Linked DNA regions of Homo sapiens: region 2 is linked to region 1. Evidence: fine-mapped expression QTL. A gene starts in region 1. The other region holds a variant in brackets. All regions are shown on one strand. Distances are from middle to middle.

Region 1 (5,383 bases):
GTTACCAGTTATTCCATGAATAAATTATATCAGAAACACCTAAAGCCTATAGCTTCCTTATCAATGACAGATTTGAATATTTATTCTCTTTTCAATTATAACGGAAACACCTAATGTGCTTGTACAAAATCTCCCAAGTAACTTAAATTAAGTCAAACTCTATCAAGAACCCATAAAGTCCAAGATACTGAGCTAGATATAGCTTGTGCTTTGCTCAGCAAAAAATATTATACAAAAAGGAAAGCATTCTTAAATTAAAATAATATTGTGTTCAGATGGCTGGATTAGATAAAAATCCCTCTCCACAAATTTTATAATGGAGGTTTTTTAAAACAATAAAAGGAAAAAAGGATTAAGAAACAATAAATAAAAGTGTTGATTACACCTAAAAATTTAAATAACATCTCTGGTAAAAGGAAAAAAACAATCAGGTTTAATTGATTTCAAAACTGATAATCAATGTATCGAAAGTCAATGGGACAGATTCTGCTAGGTAAGTATACAAAAATATACTTCCACTTGGTAGCTATAAATTAGCCATTTCTTGTCAAACTTCTGAAATGACTAGAAACTAGAATTACTGGTAATGAAATGATTCTTGAAAAGAAGATCTAATACAACTTCACAAACATCTGTGGGAAAAGCTTTCCCCAACTATAAAATCTAGTCCAAGTCAGGAAATAAAAAGTAGTCCAACTTAGCTCTCTCAAATATAATTGGCCAACCTCATGCTCCTTCCTCCACCTTCCTCTTTTCCTGATGGTCTGACCACTGAACACATTAAGTAAAAGAAACTTTTAAAAATCCCATCCCCACTGCTTAAGAAATACTTTTATGTGAGACAGATACCAGGAATCTCAGCATGGTTGGATTAAATCCAGCTCTCAATCATTACTAGATGGGAGATAAAGATAAAAAATATAAAATCTGAAAATTCAAACAATTTTAGCCAAAGTTTTAATTACCTTTCCACTAAACTGATAAGGACATGTAACGAGGTTAAGAAAGTAGAGACATGCCTGCTATCTCACTGAAGGAGAAAAAAAATTTCTATATGCAGTTATATTATAGGCCAACCAATATTTGTCAGGGTTTCTCTCCACAATTCCAACTGGACTAGGAGAAGGTAAATTAGACCTATTTGTGACTCAGCTAATACATTACTTTTAATGGCTACTGTTATATCTATGGAGTAATCCAAACATTATCTGATTTGTTCTGGTTTTTTGTGTGTTTGTTTGTTTTGAGACACAGTCTCACTCTGTTACCCAGGCTGGAGTGCAGTGGCATGATCTCGGCTCACTGGAACCTCTACCTCCTGGGCTCAAGTGATCCTCTCAACTCAGCCCCGCAAGTAGCTGGGACTACAGGTGCTTGCCACCATGCCCAGCTAACTTCTGTATTTTTTGTAGAAACAAGGTTTCACCATGTTGCCCAGGCTGGTCTCAAACTCCTGAGCTCAAGTGATCCACCCGCATCGGCCTCCCAAAGTACTGGGATTACAGGCGTGAGATACCGTGCCCTGCCTGATTTGTTCTGTTTTTTAACAGCATTATTAATGGCACATACTTATTAAGATACTTACATAAGAACAACCGTAAGAAATTCCTACCTGAACTCACCACGATAGAACTTCTGTAAGGCTTCTGGAAAGGAATGTGTATATCGAACGGGCAGGCATAAATGACCCTCAGACCTATATTTTAACAGGAATTTTTTGGTGATATAAAGAGGAAAAGAAAAAAGGTGAAGCAAAAAAATTTAATCAAAAGGTATCACTAAGCTATAAAAATAAGAAATGAAATTCTAAAAATGTCTACCCTATATTCCATTTTTTGCCACAAAATTGTGTTCTTTAAATAAAAACAAAAAAGACCAGATAGAATTAGTAGTCTACATCCAGCTTTAATGCCATAATACATAATAATATGTGAGTTTCTACGTTACAATGAAACTAAAAATAGCAGCAAATCTGCTACTAATTACCCTGTAAAGTTATTTAATGGTACAGTGTTGTTCAAATCATTATTTAACTACTAACCTTCCAATTTTTATTCTAACCTTTAAATTATTTAACTATTAACTTTGGGCAAGTCACTTTAGCATCAGCTTCCTCATCTCCAAAATCAGGATAAACCAGCAATCTCAAAAGGAATCAAAATATTTATGTGAAATGTTTTGAACCATAATCCTTTCTGAAATGTCATTTAAGATATCCTAAGTCACTAAAAAAGAACTGAGAAAGCTTAATCCAATGTAATCCTTCATTTATTCAAAAATACATAAATAATGAAACTCCTTTAAGGAGTTCATAGCTTGATGTGGAAGACAAATTAAAACAAACCATTGCAAATTATAAGGTGGTAAGATTGCCTATTGGTTGGTGTAGATGAGAGTATGTGGCACCTAAAGATGTCCAGAAGGCTCAGTCATCATCATTTAATGATACTCCAATCTTGAAGAAAAGGCTGAGGGTAGGCTTAGCAAAACAAACTCCTGATAATAAATGTAAATCAACTTGTAAGCGTGAAGGGCACAGAAAAGTGTTTTTACAAAGTTGTGAATAGTCAACTTCTTTATCTAAGCAGGTCAACACTGAGGTTAAGAAAGCGTAAGGCCTAGGTTTTTAAATTTTTATATTCATTGTAATAGTTCACACAATGTTAAGTATATAAAAGGTATCAACAGTCATTTGATAGAATAATACCTGCTGAGGTCAACTGCAAGTCTAAAACCCTTGCAGAGAGAAGACTTTCTCATGAGGTTACAGTCAGATATCAGCTAGGGCGGCAGGCATCTGAAGGCTTGACTTGGACTAGCACGACCACTTCCAGGGTTGCTCACTCACATGGCTGGCAAATTGGTGCTGGCCATTGGCAGGAGGCCTCAATCACCCTCTACGTGAGCCTCTCCACAGAGCTGCTTGTGAGTATCCTCACATCATGGTGGCTGTCCTACCCCACAATGAACAATCCTAAAGACCAATACAGATGCTGCAATACCATTTATGACCTGGCCTTGGAACCTACACATTCTCACATCATATTCTACTGGTCACACAGGCCATCCTTGATTGAATATTGGGGGGCAGGGAGGAGTACATTAAAGGGTACCTAAATACTAGGAAGCTACCTTGGAGGCTGACTACCACATGCCCTCTATCCCATTTTGAATATTAAGCTTTCAAATGTTGTAATTATTTACCAGGCTCGGTAGAGTGGCTATAGAATACAGAAGAGATGGATAGAAATTACACATTTGATTTAGATGAGTCCATGTGAGTGGGCCATCTTGAAAGTGGATCCTCCAGCCCAAGTCAAGCCTTCAGATGCCTACAGACCAAGCTGACATCTACTTATCCTCAGGAGAGATCTCAAGCCAAAACCACCCAGCCAAACTGCTCCTGAACTCCGACATGCACAACCCGTAAGAAATAATACACTGTTACTGTCATAAGCCTCTAAGTTTTGGGGTGATTAGTTATGCAGCATTTGACAACTAATAAATAGGAGAAAAAACTTAAGTTGAACATTAACTTCTGGGCTTTTTTTAAGGACTGAGACACCACTATATTTAAGATAAAGAAATCAGACAACTTGAAGCATACACAAAACCAGAAGGCAATTTAACATATCTGCCTGGAGGCAAGAAGAGAAACCAAAGAACTTCTAACACCTGTTCTTCTAGCTAGAAAATAGAGAAGAGATGACAATATTAACAATTGCTTGCCAGCTTCAAATTCCCACAAATTTATGAATATGAAGCCAGTTTCCAAAAGAAAATATAGTTCAATAAACTGTGTAACATATGATCACTAAAGTGATCTTTTACCTTAATGATATAAAAATAAGCCATTAAGAAGTTCTAAAACCCAAATGCATCAACACTGATGGCAATTAAAAATTAATTACTGAACCAATGATCTCTATTATTTACATTCAGGGAATATTTACTCAGCTAGACTGGGGTTCTATCCCTATTCCCTAAAATCACTGAATCAATCATTCATTTTTCAATTCATTTATTGCCTACCAGCTATGTATAAAACTATGCTAGTGACAGAGAAATTAAAATACAAGGTCCTATACTCAAGGAATTTATAGTCTAATGAAAGAGAAAAAGAAACAGAAAATAAATATATAGGGATAAGTGCTTTCTGTAGAGGGAATTACAACCCAGGAGAAACACCAGTCTTGAACAAACAAGAAACACAGAAGTGAGTAAGTGGTATAAGGGAACTTTTGACAAAAGCACATACAAAGGCATGGGTGGGTGGGTTAGGGGGACATAGGCCTTCTGGAGAACTCTTTCACCTACTCTCAAATCACGCCTTGGGTCATCATATCAACAAAGCTCCCCACCAGAGTAAAAGCATCCCTGTGTGAGCCTCTAACCAGCATGTTGGTGGACACTCATATAGTTACATTTTGCAGTTAAGAACAGCCTTTTAGAAAGGATCCCAGGCTGATCCTAGAAAAGTTTCCAAAAATATATTTTTTAAGCTAAAGAATGTGTCATGCCTGTGGACATATGAGGACAGGTGAAACTAGAAAAGCAAACAGGCAAGAGACAGTGAAAGATAATATGTATTATGCTAAGGAATTTACAATGTATCCTGAAGGTCATGGGAAACTCTAAAAGATTTAATAAGAAGTGGATATAATCAATTAGATCTGCACTTTAGAAAGAAGACTAAGGCAATGTGTAAAGGATGAGTTAGAAGGAGAGAGACTGTAAGCTAGTTCAGTAATTTAAACAAACTATAAAGGGCTGAGCTATTTTTAGTGGCAGCGAGGATGGCAAGAGATGGACTCAAAAGTAAGTTCCCTAGAACTTAGGACCAATTTGATGATAGAGTGAGGGAGAGGTAGTTACAGCTTCAGCACAGATGATTTCATTCATCAAGAATGATGGGAGAGAGGAAAGGAGAGTTTATTGGTACATGTTACAATTTTAATACCACTGGATATATCCAAAGTAGAGGCCAGTGTGGCTAGAATAGAATGAAGGGAAAAATAATAGGCAATAAGGACAGAACTGGTAAAGGGCCAGATAATGTACAGCCTGTATGTCACATTTAAGGTGACCAACTGTTCCCTGCTTTGCCTGGGACTGACATTCTCCTGGGACACAGGACTTTCAGTGCTAAAACCAGGAAAGTTCCAAGAAAACCAGGAGAAGTTTGTCACCCTATTCATAGTAAAAAGGTAGATTTTACCCTAAGTTAGATGGGGAGCCACGACAAAAAAAAAATCTAGGCAGAGAAGTTACATAATATTATCAAACTTCCATAAAATAATCACGCTGGCTGCAGTGGGGAGAAGAACTAAGAAACTATAAGGGTAAGAATGGAAGCAAGAAGATCAGTGTTGGAATAAAGATT
Region 2 (5,383 bases), 130 kb before region 1:
GGGGCTGAAGTGGACCCCCAGCACAGCACAGCTGCTCTACGAAAATGTGGCCAGACTGTTTTTTTAACCAGGTCCCCGATCCTTTCCTCCTCACCAGACAGGGCCTCCCAACCAGGATCTCCAGCCACCTCCTATAGGTGTGTATGGGCCAGCAACAGGTCCATACCTCCCTAGGACAGAGCTCAATCTTTGCTGTTTTACAGCCTTCAATGGTGATACCTCTAGGTACTGGAAAATCTGAGGTGACTGCAGACTGGAGTGCACCCCCAGCATACTGCAACAGCCCTATGGAAAAGTGGCCAGACCGTAATATGGGTGCCCTTTCCGATATCTCCTCATCAGGCATGTCCTCCAGCCCTCGGCCTCCAGCAACTGCCCCCAACCCCAGAGCTATCAAGCCAGTAGCAATCTGGCAACTCTCTGGACAGAGCCTCCAGGGGCAATTGAAAGCCTCTCTGCCACTGCCTCTGCAGTAGAACTGCCTTTGCTACCCTTCAACTAACAAACAAGCAAAGACCCTAAGTGCTTTGTTCACACCTCCAATAAGCTGCAGTTGACCTAAGGAGAGGAGGCCAGTCCATCTCCCATGGGTCCCACATACCCCTCACTGCTCATCTTAAGACAGGGAACCCCTGGCTTGGTCCACAATACAGACCCTTCATCCTGAGCTGATTGCACTCAGCATTTGCTGACTTGCATCTCTCTGGGGTGGAACCCCTAGAAGACAAGCAAAATGCCCTTGGCCACAACCACTACTAAGATCCCTTCTTTTGCTCCTTTCAAGTTGGGAAAGGAACATAAACACTGAGATCACCCCAGAGCTGTAGTGGAAAGCCCAAGAATGCCAAGCCATGATCTACAGCCAGCACTCAATGGGGAGAGAAACCCACACCCTCAGAGCATTAAGAAGGAACACAGTTGTAACCATGAGGAAACATAAGGGAGACACATAACCAAGTAAGAGTTTACCAACTAACCAATAAGCCTAAGTTCCACCTACTGGATCACACCCTAAAGCTTCAACACCAAAAATACCTCACTAACATACCCTCCTGAAACCAGAGACAAGAAGTCAGCTACAAATAAAGACCCTGCATGAAGCCATGGCCCAATGAAAACATCCAGAAAAGAAGTCTATTGGCTGTACTTAACATACACTGCAGTTAAAGGAACACCCACATGCAGAGATGAGAAGGAACCAACGCAAAAACTCCAGTTACTCAAATGACCAAAGTGTTGTATGAGTTTAGTAATTCTAGATGCTGTTTGTGATTGAAACAAGATTGAGGACAACCTTGTCCTCCAAACAACTGCACCAGTTCACCAACAAGAGTTCTTAACCAGGATGAACTGGCTGGAATTACAGAAATAGAATTCAGAATATGGATAGGAACAGATATAATTGAGGTTCAGGAGGATGGAAAAACCTAATCCAAAAAAATAAAAAATAAAAATCAAGATAAAGTGATACAGGAGCTGAAGGACAAAATATCTGGTATAAAAAAGAACTTAATGGATCTGACAGAGCTGAATAACACAATACAAGAATTTCACAATGCAATCACAAGAATTAGCAGAATAAACCAAGCTGAGGAAAGAATCTCAGAACTTAAAGACTGGTTCTTTGAAATAAGAAAACCAGACAAAAATAAAGAAAAAAGAATAAAAAGGAATGGACAAAACCTCCAAAAAGTGTGGGATTATGTAAAGAGGCCAAATCTATGAATCACTGGCATCCCTGAATGGGCAGGGAAGGGAGGGCAGGAAGCAAACAACTTGGAAAACATATTTCAGGATATCATCCATGAAAACTTCCCCACCCTTGCTAGACAAGCCAACAGCCAAATTCAGGAAGTACAGAGAACTCCTAAAGGGTCTACAAGAAGATCATTCCCAAGACATATAATGGTCAGATTTTCCAAGGTCAAAATGAAAGAAAGAATGTTAAAGGCAGCTAGGGAGAAAGGGCAGGTCACCTACAAGGGGAACACCATCAAGCTAACAGCAAATCTCTCAGCTGAAACCTACAAGCCAGAAGAGATTGGGGGCCTATAGTGAACATTCTTAAACAAAAAAAATCTTCGACCAAGAATTTCATATCCAGCCAAACTAAGCTTCCTAAACGAAGGAGAAATTAGATCCTTTTCAGATAAGCAAATGTTGAGGGAGTCTTATAAGAGATCTTGCAAAAAGCACTAAATATAAGAAAATACTGTTACCAATCACTACAAACACACATGAAGTACACAGACCAGTGACACTATAAAACAACCACACCATCCAAGCCAACATAATAGCCAGCTGACACCACAATAAGATCAAATACATACATATCAATACTAAAATTGAATGTAAACAGGCTAAATGCCCCCACTTAAAAGGCACAGAGTGGCAAGCTGGAATAAAAAAAAAGCAAGACCCAATGGTATGCTGTCTTCAAGAGACCCATCTTACATGAAATGACAGCCATAGGCTCAAAATAAAGGGATGGAGGAAAATCTAACAAGCAAATGGAAAACAAAAAAAAAAGCAGGCTGCATTCCTAATTTCAGATAAAACAGGTTTCAAACCAACAAAGATAAAAAAAGACAAAGCATTTTATAATAATGGTCAAGAGTTCAATTCAACAAGAAGACCTAACTATCCTAAAGATATATGCACACAACACAGGAGCACCTAGATTCTTAAAGCAAGTTCTTAGAGACCTACAAAGAGACATAGACTCACACACAATAATAGT[G/A]GGAGACTTTAACACTCCACTGACAGTATTAGGCAGATCACTGAGGCAGAAAATTAACAAAGATATTCAGGAACTAAACTCAACATTGCACCAAATAGATCGGATAGACCTTTACAGAACTCTCTACCCAAAAGCAACAGAATATACATTCTTCTCATTGCCACATGGCACATACTCTAAAATTAATCACACAATTGGATATAAAATAATCCTCAGCAAATGCAAAAGAACCAAAATCATATCAAGTCATGGATTAAAGGTTTAAATATAAAACCCCAAACTATAAAAACCCTGGAAGACAACCTAGGCAATACCCTCCTGAATATGGGAATGGGCAAAGACTTCATGACAAAGACACCAAAAGCAATCATGACAAAAGCAAAAATTGACAAGTGGGATCTAATTAAACTAAAGAGCTACTGTACAGCAAAAGAAACTATCAACAGAGTAAACAGACAAACTGCATAATGGGAGAAAATATTTGCAAACTATGCATCTGACAAAGGTCTAATATCGAGCATCTATAAGGAAGGTAAACACATTTACAAGAGAAAAACAACCCCATTAAAAAGTGGGCAAATGACATAAACAGATATTTTTCAAAAGAAGACATACATGCGGCCAACAAGCATATGAAATGAAAGCTCAATATCACTGATAGAGAAGTGAAAATCAAAGCCACAATGAGATACAATTTCACACCAGTCAGAATGGCTACCATTAAAAAGAAAAAAAAATAACCGATGCTGGTGAGGTTGCAGAGAAAAGGGAACACTTATACACTGTTGGTGGACGTGTGAATTTGTTCAACCATTGTGGAAAGCAATATGATGGTCCCTCAAAGAGCTAAAAACTGAACTACCATTCGACCCAGCAATCCCATTACTGGGTCTATACACAGAGGAATATAAATCATTCTATGCCCTTTCTCTACCTTTTGATTCCTGCTCTGCTCTGCTGACCTCTCATCTTGGCCCTGCCTAGAAGTCCAGGACTGGCAGGTCTCCATGGAAATCACATAGGGGACAGGCCCTTTGCTGAAGTGGGCAAGTGATGCCCTGACCAGCACTGACACAGTACACCAACTTGAGATACACAGAGTCCACCTTCGATGTTCACATGTCTCCCTTTCTGAACCTTCTCTCGATTTTTGGGTGCCCCATCACCCTTCTTACGAATTCTAACTAATTCTGTACTCCCCACCCCACCCCAACTCACAGGGAAGAGACAGAGAAGTGGTGAGGTTTAAAAAGCAGCACGAGGGTCTCCCTGTCTAGTATACTAATGAATACACCTGTACCTATTATAATGCAGTAGCCCAGATCAGGGCAGGATGGTGACTCACTAAATTCACTCATTTATACCTGGTTGATCCTGCCAGTTAAAGAAATGCACCCATTTATCTGTTGAGTCAACACAAATTTGTTGAGCATCTACTATGAGCCAGGCAGGGGTGATTCTTCAAATAAGACAAACAAAAACCATCCCCTGTGGAGCTTGTATTTGAGTAGAGAGATGAGCATTAGTATATAGTATATTAGGCAGTGATAAGGAGAAAAAAATAAAGCAGGAAAGTCCCCTCTGAGAAATGACTTCCCAATAAAGACCTGAAGGAAGAGGGTGAGCTAACCATGCAGATGTTCAGTGTTTCTTAACAAATGAGTCCCTGCTATGGGGCAGCATTATGGTTGGCATTTGCAAGGGCATTATCTGATTATGATCCTCACAGCAACCGTGAGGAGTATTGTATGATAAGACACCCCTTTCTCTTTTTTTAAACAAATAATGAGTTTGAGGTTCAGGTTTACTGACTTAACCAAAGTTCCCAAACACCATATTAAGAGATACCACTCTCTTATCAATTTTAATAATTAGTAGTTTTAAAATTGTTCACATACATAACCATGTCATAAGAAATAAAAGCTTGTTTCTTTTTTTCCTTATCCTTAGGTCTTTCAGTTCTCTTTTCTTGTCTTATTATTTTGGGACACACAATGTTGAACAGAAGTAGTGAAGGCAGGCATCCTTGGCTTGTTCTGGATCTCAGAGGGAAAGAATGTAGCATTAAGGATACTTGCAGTAGTTTTGTGTTCTTGTTTACGAATACATATTTACTTATAGGTAGATAGATAAATAGATAAACATTTATTAGAAAATGAATGTTTACTTTTATTCCTTGTTTCCTAGGACTTTTAAAACACATAAATAAATATTGAATTTTATTTAAATGTTTCCTGCATCCATTTGTGATGGTCATGTGACTTTACTCTTTTCCACCATTAATGTGATTTATAATAATTTATTTTCCTTTTTAAAACCCTTTTAAATTTTGCGGCCAGTCACGGTGGCTCATGCCTGTAATCCCAGCACTTTGGGAAGCTGAGGTGGGGGGATCACTTGAGCTCAGGAGTTTGAGACCAGCCTGGGCAGCAGGGCGAAACTCATCTCTACTAAAATTACAAAAATTAGCTGGATGTGGTGGTGCACACATGTAGTCCCAACTACTCAGGAGGCTGAGGTGGGAGAATCGCTTGAACCCAGGAGACGGAGATTGCAGTGAGCCGAGATTACACCACTGCACTCCAGCCTGGGCAACAGAACAAGGCTCTGTCTCAAAACAAACAAACAAACAAACAAACCTTT

Direction of the effects. Alleles are on the strand shown, and positions count from the first base shown. SD is a standard deviation of normalised expression in the study named.
For the expression in tibial artery of the gene that starts at base 3,072 in region 1, allele A in region 2 goes with a higher level than allele G (small effect, 0.25 SD a copy in GTEx).

Evidence for each region. PIP is the estimated chance that this variant, and not a neighbour inherited with it, causes the effect. A credible set is the group of variants that fine-mapping cannot tell apart.
Region 2: its variant is the best candidate, but not a certain one, in a credible set for the expression of NADK2-AS1 in tibial artery (GTEx, PIP 0.70).

The regions. Positions count from the first base shown.
Region 1 is chr5:36,217,984-36,223,366 of GRCh38, forward strand. It overlaps NADK2-AS1 (NADK2 antisense RNA 1), which reads left to right and starts at 3,072. Exons shown (of 2, transcript NR_170324.1): 1 at 3,072-3,426; 2 at 3,555-3,918. It overlaps NADK2 (NAD kinase 2, mitochondrial), which reads right to left. Exons shown (of 12, transcript NM_001085411.3): 5 at 1,613-1,696.
Region 2 is chr5:36,083,040-36,088,422 of GRCh38, forward strand. No RefSeq gene overlaps it. Among named protein-coding and RNA genes, the nearest start is that of UGT3A2, 19 kb to the left of the region's middle. The variant G/A (reference allele first, on the strand shown) is at 2,741.